Linked DNA regions of Homo sapiens. The protein of the gene in region 3 purifies or fractionates together with the protein of the main gene of each other region. This does not show direct contact. Each region holds a gene or a part of one and is shown on either strand. Other genes may lie near its edges. The genes, in order: KCNQ1, BRI3 and BACE1.

Region 1 (3,647 bases), about 110 Mb from region 3:
TCAGTGGGGGAGTCAGGAAGTACCCCGGTTCTGTACCTGTAGTGGATGGGGCTCTCAGAGGGATTGGGGGTGATGGGGGTGCTGAGCTGGCCTGAGAAGGGTGGGGTAACCTAGGGGGTGGAGTGGGGGAGGGAGAGAGCACTCCTGACACAGGGTCCTGAGGAGGCAGGGGTGCCCCAGGGAATGGGGGGCACCTGGGGCCCACGGGAGGCTCTGGGGGAGACTGGGCGGTGAGCCCCTGGGAAGGAGGCCTCAGGGACAGCCCTAGACTGTCACCCTCAGTGTGGACAGCAGGAGCTATGGCAGCTGCTTGAGCAAGGTGGGCAAGGGAGAAGTACCAAATGTGTGCAGGTTCTGGGGAGGAGCTTGAGGCCCCTTTAGTTCACCTTTGGAACTTAGGACCAAGTCTGCAAATACAGATGAACCCAGGGTTAGGAGGGTGGCTGGGGCATCACCCACCTGGGGTCTGGACTGCTGGAACCAGGGGGAGGCAGGCCTGCCATTCTGTGAGCCTGCTTTAGACTGGGGATGTGGTCCCGTGAATCAGGGGTGGGCCATGGCATGGCGTGGGGGACCAGCCCTCCTCCCTGTCCCCAGCTGAGTGTGAGCTCCCTGGGGTCTTGCTGTGGCCTTGGCCCTGGGTGTTGTCCCACACAGCCCAGGAGAGCGTTTGAGGCTGATGGTGGTGGAGATAGTTTTATCTCTGAGCAAACATTCCATCTTGCTGTTTCCAGCCTAGAGATGGTGAGGGGACTTTTCCTTGGCTCTTTCCTGGCCTGCTAGCAGCACCAGCCTAATTAACCTGACAAGCGGGGCCTCCCCAGCCATGCAGCCTTGCACTGCCTTCCCACATCCAGCTGGATTTGGGGATCAGTGTTGTTTTTAATCATTCCTACCACCTTGTCCCACAGGCAGGAGTCCTGCCATCTTCGAAGGCCAGCCCCTAAACAGGTTCCCTGAGTGTTAGGTCAAAATAACTTTAAAAAGACACGCAGCTATCCACAGCAATCCTTAATAGTTACTTATCTATTTCAGGGTATAACATAAGACACACCTATCATTTCAGACCTGCCTAGGACATGCCTGGAGAAGGTATTTAAGTAATTTTAAAAGTGCATCAAAACAAGGTCAGGCGCGGTGGCTCACGCTTATAATCCCAGCACTTTGGGAGGCCGAAGCAGGCAGATCACCTAAGGTCAGGAGTTCCAGACCAGCCTGGCCAACATGGCAAAACCCCATCTCTACTAAAAAAATACAAAAAAATTAGCCAGGCGTGGTGGCATGCGCCTGTAGTCCCAGCTACTCAGGAGGCTGAGGCAGGAGAATTGCTTGAACCTGGGAGGCAGAGGTTGCAGTGAGCCGAGATCACGCCACTGCACTCCAGCCTGGGTGACAGAGCGAGACTCTGTCTCATAAATAAATAAATAAATAAATAAATAAATAAAGTGCATCAAAACAAGAAAAACCCTGCTAAGGGCCAGTCTGCTGGGTGGTGGATGGGTCAGCAGAGCTGGGCTGGGAGCCGCTATGCCTCCCCATCAAGGCCACCAATAGTCGGGTGAGCCGGCCTCTGTGCCGTCATGGGCACCCTGTCTCAGCTCCGGGGACTTGGAGCTCTGTGTTTCCGTGGCCTTTTTCACGATGACCAAACAAAGGCGGGTGTTATGGTGTCCAGGCCCGGTCTCCCTAACGGGCAGTTTCTCAGAAGCAAAGACCGACGAGACAGAGCTCCTGCTACCAGAGAGCCCTAGGCCGGCTCATTGGAATAGTCATTTATTTGTTCCTTCATTCGTTCATTCAGCATGTCCATGTTGAGCACTGACTGGAGCAGGTCCTGTTCTGGGGCCTGGGAAATGGGGGTGGATAAGACCAAGGTAGCCTCTTCTCTAAGGAGCTCAGCCGGACCTCAGCCTAGAGCCCTGGTCCCCAGGAGCTGAGGACAGAGGTGGGACCCACACCCCCCCCATGAGGCCACAGAGCCTGCAGGTGTCCACACCTTTTGTTTTTGTTTTTTGATTTTTGTTTTTCGTTTTTTGTTTTTTGAGATGGAGTCTCACTCTGTCACCCAGGCTGGAGTACAATGGTGTGATCTCGGCTCACTGCAAGCTCTGCCTCTCGAGTTCAAGCGATTCTCCTGCCTCAGCCTCCTGAGTAGCTGGGATTACAGGGCGTGCGCCACCATGCCAGGCTAATTTTTGTATTTTTAGTGGAGACAGGGTTTCACCATGTTGATCAGGCTGGTCTTGAACTCCTGAACTCGTGATCTGCCTGCCTCGGCCTCCCAGAGTGCTGGGATTACAGGCGTGAGCCCCCGCACCTGGCCCACACCCTTTCTTTACCTTACACCCCTGCCATCTCCAGTATGCACCTGTCCGCACACACCCACACACCCCTGAAGGATTTGACGTCATGAGCCAAAAACATTTTTGCAAAAGGAAAGCAACTAAGCTCCCAGCGTGTCTCCCCTTATCCATTGGGCTTGTCCCAAACACATGCCGGATGGTGTAAGTATCATTCCATCCTAATTAATAACATTTGGGAGCCAGCGATGGCAGTGTCCAGCTGACTGCTCATAGTGGACTCCCTGGTGGGGGCGTGGCATGGGAGCAAGGCCAGCCACTGTCACCCAGTGGGAGCAGAAGTCCCCTCCAGGGCCCGGCTTCTGAGGGAGGACAGGCAGGAGTCCGCCGGAAGTGGGCCTGAGACGCCGTATGCCTGTGGCTTTGTGGCTTTGTGTGGCTAGCGCCTCTCACACGTGGGGGCTGGTTTCATCTTCCAGCCCCACACACCTTCCCCAAGGGCCTCCCGTACACCCCGGCTGCCTGGGCGCTGGGCTCCAGCCTGCAGGTGGCCGCTGCACTTTAAGTGTCACAATGGGCTGCACTTCACATGAAAGCTGCATTTTGGCAATAAGTCCCCACCAAGCCCACTGAGCCTGGCCCTGCTGCATCCACACTATACAGCTGAGGAAACTGAGGCCCAGCTTTCCACTTCTGTGCCTAGGGGGTGGGATCCAGCTCCGAGGGTCTTCTTCCCACTCCTCCAGGAACCTCCGCCCTCTGGTGTCGGTGGAGTTGAGGAGGTGTTGGGGTGTGGAGGGGCCAGGTGACTCCCTGTAAGGGCAAAGTGATCCAGAGGCTGCCCCTACCGCAGGTACACCAGGCTCAAAGGCCAGCTGTGAGGCTTTCCGGGGCTGGATCTGGTGGGAAAGTGCTTATCACGGAGGGCACCCGGGGTTCCTGGCGTGGGACCCCCTCTGACCCAGGCTAGGGTTCCTGGCGTGGGACGCCCTCTGGCCCAAGCTGGGGTTCCTGGTGTGGGGCCCCCTCTGACCCAAGCTGGGGTTCCTGGCGTCGGACGCCCTCTGGCCCAAGCTGGAGTTCCTGGTGTGGGGCCCCCTCTGACCCAAGCTGGGGTTCCTGGCGTCGGACGCCCTCTGGCCCAAGCTGGGGTTCCTGGTGTGGGGCCCCCTCTGGCCAAGGCTGGGGTTCCTGGTGTGGGGCCTCCTCTGGCCTGGGTGGGCCTGGCCTGAGAGCTGCAGCCTCACCTGGGCTCCACTGCCTATGGACATGAGCTGAAGCTGCTCAGCCTTCCAGGGCCTCTGTGCGCAGGCATCACCATCCGCAGCAGGCCAGGACCCGGGCCTG
Region 2 (3,647 bases), on a different chromosome or scaffold from region 3:
AGAAAAGGGAAGAGGAAGCTCCCCTGAGAGGCCTGAGGCCACTGGCTCCCTCCAGCTCCCCCGGAACCTGTCATGGCCATCTGTGGGGACACAGCTGGTGCTTGGCCTTCCCGAGGCTCCCCCACCTCGACTGTGTGGTCTTGGGAGCTGTGGCACCTGGGGGAGAAGGTCCTGGAGCCAGGCAGGGCGTGCTGCAGTCGGCAGGGCTGGGCGGAGGTGTCCTGCCCAGTCTGGACTGGCAGGGGCAGCCCTGGGCAAGGCTGAACAAGTGTGGTGGCCTGACGACCTTCTGGGGCTTAAATAGGGGACACATTTGTAAAAGCCCACACAGGAAGTAGAAACTTTCCTGGCAGACTCTGGTCTTCTGCTTGGCTTTGCCTTGGAGCTTCATGGTGTGCCCTGCAGCCCAGCTCAGCCCCTCCACACAGACAGGTGGCGTTGTGTGAGTTTGGGAAACACTGGGTATAAGAGTGCTGCAGGACTTCTCAGAGCCTTTTGAGAACGAATGGACATAGGGACTGTAGGAGAAAAGTTTCCCAAAATCGGCTGAACAATCCCCCTTTTCCAAATGCATACCACTGTGTCTGGCTAATTTTAAATTTTTGTAGGGAGGGGTCTTTGTTGCCCAGGCTGGTTTTGAACTGCTGGCTTTAAGCGATCCGCCTCAGCTTCCCAAAGTGCTGCAGTTGCAGGCGTGAGCCACGGTGTCCTACTCCACTGGAGATTGCTGAAGGGACCTCCCTGAGTAGGCTAGAGGGAGGCAGGTGGGCATGAAGTTTTTTTCTTTTTTCTTTTTTTTTGAGACGGAGTTTTGCTCTTGTTGCCCAGGCTAGAGTGCAGTGGCACGATCTCAGCTCACTGCAACCTCTGCCTCCCAGGTTCAAGCAATTCTGTTTCAGCTTCCCGAGTAGCTGGGATTACAGGTACCCACCACTACGCCCAGCTAATTTCTGTATTTTTAGTAGAAACGCGGTTTCACCATGTTGACCAGGCTGGTCTCGAACTCCTGACCTCAGGTCATCCACCCACCTCGGCCTCCCAAAGTGCTGGGATGACAAGCATGAGCCACTGCACTTTGCAACTTTTTCTTTCAGCAGTGGAAAGCCCGACTTCAGAATATTCTGGTTTATTTTTCCATAATCCCCGGAGAAGCAGGGAACAGGTTCTGTGGGTGGGGTTTGGGCTCCCCAGCCTGCTTTGCCCAGCAGGGGTGGGGGCAGTGGCCCTCATGAGTCCAGACCCCCAGGAAGCAGCTGGAAACATCCAGGGGGCTGGGATGGGAGTAGGGTCCCCCAGATGGCCAAGTTTTCTCCCCTTAGCAAGGCACAGGTAGTCATGCTTCCCTGTCGCAGGCAGGCGGCTGCACTGCCTTGCTGTAGGCTCCCCTTCCCCCCTAAGCACCAGGTCCCATCATCTATCAGACAGCCCCACCCTGTTGTGTTTTTCTGTCCACTCACTCCAGCACTGGCTGGATGGGGGGTTTGGGCCCCCAGGAGGCCCAGAAGGAGCCCGTTGGGGTCTGCCTGTCTGGTGGGAGCAAAGCTTTTCTCATTTGGGCTGAGCTGGCTAGTGTGGTTAATTTCAGCTGTGTCCAGAACTTTCCAGAAATAGCCTAAGGAGCTGAGCTGAGCACTAGGCTTCTGGCTTCCTACTTTTAGGGCCTCTGAAACTGACAGTTGGGTTCGATGATGATTTCAGGTCACTGAACCTAGGCTCACTGGCGCAGGATTTGAGGGATGGCCTGCAGGTGTCTTTAGTCTGTTACAAACATTGAACTTTGTTGAAGAGGCGGCTTTGAGATCACATTTCTCAAAATAAGTGGCCTTCAGACATTGTGTGAACATGGCCGACTGTAGTCTCCCATTAACCCACCCCCGCTACCAAAGGAACGGAAATCGAATAAAAGCCCAAACCTGACTGGATCACTAAGCTGCTAGTTGCTCCTTTTCTAAGAGCAGATGTATGTGGCTTGTGGCACCAAAATGATCATGCCTCTCAAGGTTGTTTTTTTTTTTTTTTTTTTTTTTTTGAGACGGAGTCTCGCTCTGTCGCCCAGGCCGGACTGTGGACTGCAGTGGCACAATCTCGGCTCACTGCAAGCTCCGCTTCCTGGGTTCACGCCATTCTCCTGCCTCAGCCTCCTGAGTAGCTGGGACTACAGGCGCCCGCCACCGCGCCCGGCTAATTTTTTGTATTTTTAGTAGAGACGGGGTTTCACCTTGTTAGCCAGGATGGTCTCGATCTCCTGACCTCATGATCCACCCGCCTCGGCCTCCCAAAGTGCTGGGATTACAGGCGTGAGCCACCGCGCCCGGCCATCTCTCAAGGTTTTACTTTTTGAGATGGAGTCTCGCTCTGTCGCCCAGCCTGGAGTGTAGTGGCTTAATCTCGGCTCACTGCAACCTCTGCCTCCTGGATTCAAGCGATTCTCCTGCCTCAGCCTCCCAAGTAGCCGGGACTACAGGCATGTGCCACCACGCCTGGCAGATTTTTGTATTGTTAGTAGAGACAGGGTTTCACCGTGTTGGCCAGGCTGGTCTTGAACTCCTGAACTCAGGTGATCCACCCGCCTCCGCCTCCCACAGTGCTGGGATTACAGGCGTGAGCCACCACACACCCTGCCTTGCCTTTCAAGGTTAACTGATGAGTCCTTTCAACTGTTTTATTCTTCCCGTTTTCTTTGAATGTTACATGTAGTGATTAAATAACTATGGCCATTCCATGAACGGGTACGTGCAGCTGGTTCTTGGGGCTCTCCAGGCCAGTGGGCTGTAGCTGGGTGGTGGGGTGGGGGGCTGTTTTCTGTCACTCGCCAGAGGTCCCCATGTGACTCATGGCCACTGGTTGGTTATTGAATGCAAGGGTGGCAGGGGTGAGGGTTCTGGCTGCCCGGGTCCTTACGGTGCCACCCTCTCTGCCCGTCTCTGCTGCAGGGTTGGGGTGCTGGAGGACTGCTTCACCTTCCTGGGCATCTTCCTGGCCATCATCCTCTTCCCCTTTGGGTTCATTTGCTGTTTTGCCTTGAGGAAGCGACGATGCCCCAACTGTGGAGCCACCTTCGCTTAAAGGGAACACCAGGCCCGGCTTTCCTACACCCAGCTCTCTTTTTCTAATGTAAATGTTGTGTACAATAATTTTATTTGATTAAGCTTCAGGACTGTTTTGTAAAGCGAGGTGGGACCGATGTGGCACACGCCAGCTGCGGTTTCCCGGAGCGTGGAGAGGCAGTGCTGCTGCTCCCGCCCGAGGCTCATGACAACTCAATAAAGCACTGCTTTTATTTTTTGCAGTCTTCAATTTGAGAAAGGTGAGAAATAATGTTTTCAATAAATGAGATTCATACCATTGTTGACCTGGTGCTGCTTACTCGGTGCTTTCAGAGACCCAGGAAAGACTGGAACGACACCCCCATCGCTCCCCCGGCCAGTCCTGACCACAGTTGTATTCAGCAGGCGCTTACAGCTCAAGAAAATGTTTTCAAGTTCTGCTTTATTATTAAAGTTGTAATCCCTTGATATTTACAGAGCAGGCACCTCGGTGCCAAGGACCAGGCCATGCCCGTTCTGGTCTGGGAGGCAGAACCTGGGGTTGGGTGAGCCACGGGGTCTGCAGGTTGCATCCGAGACCCCCAGGTCCTATTCTTCCAC
Region 3 (3,647 bases):
TTCTGAGATGCTTGAACAAACCCCTTCTCTAGAACTTGCTGTAGAGGTTCCACATTCACCCTGCCTGGCACTTTCTCTACCACTCGGATGGTACCACTAGGTTCCAAGGCAGTAAGAGAGTCAATGGTTCCTTTTCTCGGGGAGCTTGACGGAGCCAGAGGGCGGAAGAGATGCCCACTAGCTGTCCCTGCAGCAGCAGCAGCAGCAGGCACAATGCACAAAGCCCAGGCTTGTTCTTCACAGGGCCTGAGCTCAAGATCTAGGAATATGAGCAATAGATAGGAGAGCAAGCCTCACCAATGGTTCCCTTCATCTATCTGCAAGCCCACTTTACACTCTGTTCTGGGTGGTGAGTCTAGGGATGTTTTGCTGAGCAGCCTGAAAGCAGACTCTAGGATTCCCCTGAGATGAGATAAGGTGGTGTTTGGGAGTAAGTTTAACTTAGATCCTTATACCAGTTGTGGTTATGCATCCACAGATCTCTGCCTTCTTTCCACAGGTCCAGCACATACCGGGACCTCCGGAAGGGTGTGTATGTGCCCTACACCCAGGGCAAGTGGGAAGGGGAGCTGGGCACCGACCTGGTAAGCATCCCCCATGGCCCCAACGTCACTGTGCGTGCCAACATTGCTGCCATCACTGAATCAGACAAGTTCTTCATCAACGGCTCCAACTGGGAAGGCATCCTGGGGCTGGCCTATGCTGAGATTGCCAGGGTGAGAGGAACAGGGCTTGGCCCTACACACTCTATGCACACTGCACTATACAGAGAAGGAATTAGGAGAGAGAAGGGGAATTAGCAGAAGGAGGGCAACAATCAGTTTAAAGGATTATTTAACAGGGGTATAGGGTGGCAGTCTAAATTTTAGCCCTATAGAGGGCAGAACCATAGTGACAGAAGCTGTGATAGGTACAAGAATAGGCTGTGCTTTCTATGTACTCTTAAGATCTTTTTTTTTTTGAGACGGAGTTTCACTCTTGTTGCCCAAGCTGGAGTGCAATGGTGCAATCTTGGCTCACTGCAACCTCCACCTCCTCGGTTCAAGCGATTTTCCTGCCTCAGCCTCCCGAGTAGCTGGGATTATAGGCGCCCACCATGACGCCCGGCTAATTTTTTCTATTTTTAGTAGAAATGGGGTTTCATCATGTTAGCCAGGCTGGTCTCGAACTCCTGACCGCAGGTGATCCGCTCACCTCGGCCTTCCTAAGTGCTGGGATTACAGGCATGAACCACCGCGACCAGCCACTCTAAGATCTTTAATAAAGGCCCCCATAAATTTGAAGCAGGTTAGGCATAGGGGGATCAAAGATATATGAACCTGGCCAGGCGTGGTGGCTCACACCTGTAATCCCAGCACTTTGGGAGGCCAAGGCGAGCGGATGACCTGAGGTCAGAAGTTCAAGACCAGCCTGACCAACATGGTGAAACCCCATCTACCCCATCTCTACTGAAAACACAGAAATTAGCCGGGCATGTTGGCGCATGCCTATAATCCCAGCTACTCAGGAGGCTGAGGCACGAGAATCACTTGAACCCAGGAGGTGAAGGTTGCAGTGAGCCGAGATCGTAACATTGCACTCCAGCTTGGGCAACAAGAGCAAAACTCTGTCTCAAAAAAAAAAAAAAGATCTATGAATCTGTGAACCTATCAATACTGTCCTGTTTGCATTGCCAGGGCTCCTGCTAACCCTTCCTCTGCCAAATCTCAGTGCCTTAAGATGGTCTTTCCCAAGGAGCATCCCCCAAGCCTTCAAATTTGCCTTCCAGTTTAGACAGGAAGCTGGCCTCTGCCTTTAGGGCCGTATGAGGACTCACTCCTTGTCTCTTTCTGCCAAAGCCTGACGACTCCCTGGAGCCTTTCTTTGACTCTCTGGTAAAGCAGACCCACGTTCCCAACCTCTTCTCCCTGCAGCTTTGTGGTGCTGGCTTCCCCCTCAACCAGTCTGAAGTGCTGGCCTCTGTCGGAGGGAGCATGGTGAGTAGGTCCTCAGAGAGGGGAGGTCCTGGCATTGAGGGAGAGATGGGTGCCATCCTCTCCCCTTCCTGAAAGCTACACCACAGTTTTGGCTCCGATACTTAGAATCAGGAGGAACCTCTTTATATTCCCTACCCTTACTTTATTTTTCCATTCTTTTCTTTTTTGCGTTATTCCAGAAAGGAATCAAGGCACCTATGGTAAACTTGGAAAGGAAGGCAATTAGGAAAATTTCAAAGGAAATGAAAATAAGACCTGTTGAATTAAAATTATTCAGTTTGATGGTCAGAAGGCAGAGATATAAGAAGTTTGTCTATTTATTAATTAATTAGAACAATGGTGAATGGTTCTCCAATAAGCAGAGAAAATAAAACTTATAATATAAACAAATAACCATTCATTCAACATTTATTGTGGCAGTTTAGATTTAAATAACTTTATATCAAGGGCTGTATGATTCTGAAACAAATAATTAAAAATCCCGGAAAGTCTTTTCTCCTGAACACATTTAAGAAACTAGAAATCACTTTGGGTATGATTTGTTTAGAAGCAGGAAGATGAAAAGGGTAGCCTGTAGAAGACCTTGCCACCCCAAGAAATCACTGATCTTATTGCTTGGTCCTTGGGGGACTCACTCTCCTTCTGTGCCAGGACACGGGTACCTGCCTCTTTTTTTCCCTAGATCATTGGAGGTATCGACCACTCGCTGTACACAGGCAGTCTCTGGTATACACCCATCCGGCGGGAGTGGTATTATGAGGTGATCATTGTGCGGGTGGAGATCAATGGACAGGATCTGAAAATGGACTGCAAGGAGGTAAGAAAACCAAGGGAGAGCCTGGGAACATAAGGGGGTAGGCAGTACAATGTGAAGGAAGACTCTGGTTATCATGTTGGGAGGATGAGGCAGAGGTAATAGGACCTGCAGAAAGGGTTGGAAGTTGAGCCTAGAACAGTCAGGGGCTTAATGGTCACACAGCAGGATCTGCGGTTTGGGGCCTAGGGACTGGTAGTGAAAAAAAAAACATGGAACTAGTTCTGATGTCTGGACTCTAGTCACTGCCTTGCTTCGTAGCCTTGGGCAAGTCTTTTGTGAGACAGGGTGATAGAATGAAGAGTCTTGTCTTTGGAGTCAGGAAGACCCAGATCTGAATCTAGCTCTGATTTGTACTAGCTATGTACCCTTAGGCCAGTTACTATTCTGTGTCTCAGTTTCCTTATCTGCAAAACAGGTAAAAACAACTTTCTCAGAATATCAGAGATAATGTGTAAAGTGTTTATCTCTGTGGTTGGCAGTACTCAATAAAAGGTAACTAAATCATTTATGTCTTCCTTCCCTAGATTCTTATGTATGTTAAATTAGAATAGATATAAATGTACTAAGAAAAGTTAAAAGCGGCCGGGCGTGGCTGTAATCCCAGCACTCTGGGAGGCCAAGGCGGGGGCAGATCATTTGAGGTCAGAAATTCGAGACCAGCCTGGTCAACATGGTGAAACCCCATCTCTACTAAAAATAGCCAGGCGTGGTGGCAGGCACCTGTAGTCCCAGCTACTTGGGAGGCTGAGGCAAAAGAATGGTTTGAATCCAGGAGGCAGAGGTTAGAGTGAGCCGAGATCACGCCACTGTACTCCAGCCTGGGTGACAGAGCTAATACTCCATCTCAAAAAAAA

What was found.
Region 1: the proteins of BACE1 (region 3) and KCNQ1 purify together in Homo sapiens (affinity purification with western blotting; one study listed by BioGRID). This does not show direct contact.
Region 2: the proteins of BACE1 (region 3) and BRI3 purify together in Homo sapiens (affinity purification with western blotting, with the first as the bait; one study listed by BioGRID). This does not show direct contact.

The regions. Positions count from the first base shown.
Region 1 is NC_000011.10:2,566,861-2,570,507, forward strand, and holds part of KCNQ1 (potassium voltage-gated channel subfamily KQT member 1), read left to right. Parts: intron 1-3,647. UniProt on the Homo sapiens protein: Pore-forming subunit of the voltage-gated potassium (Kv) channel involved in the regulation of cardiomyocyte excitability and important in normal development and functions of myocardium, inner ear, stomach and colon.
Region 2 is NC_000007.14:98,288,178-98,291,824, forward strand, and holds the end of BRI3 (membrane protein BRI3), read left to right. Parts: intron 1-2,933; coding exon 2,934-3,066; coding exon of another isoform or gene 3,067-3,113; 3' UTR 3,114-3,368; downstream 3,369-3,647. UniProt on the Homo sapiens protein: Participates in tumor necrosis factor-alpha (TNF)-induced cell death. May be a target of Wnt/beta-catenin signaling in the liver.
Region 3 is NC_000011.10:117,292,200-117,295,846, reverse strand, and holds part of BACE1 (beta-secretase 1 isoform A preproprotein), read left to right. Parts: intron 1-273; exon of another isoform or gene 274-299; coding exon of another isoform or gene 300-349; intron 350-499; coding exon 500-716; intron 717-1,838; coding exon 1,839-1,976; intron 1,977-2,658; coding exon 2,659-2,793; intron 2,794-3,647. UniProt on the Homo sapiens protein: Responsible for the proteolytic processing of the amyloid precursor protein (APP).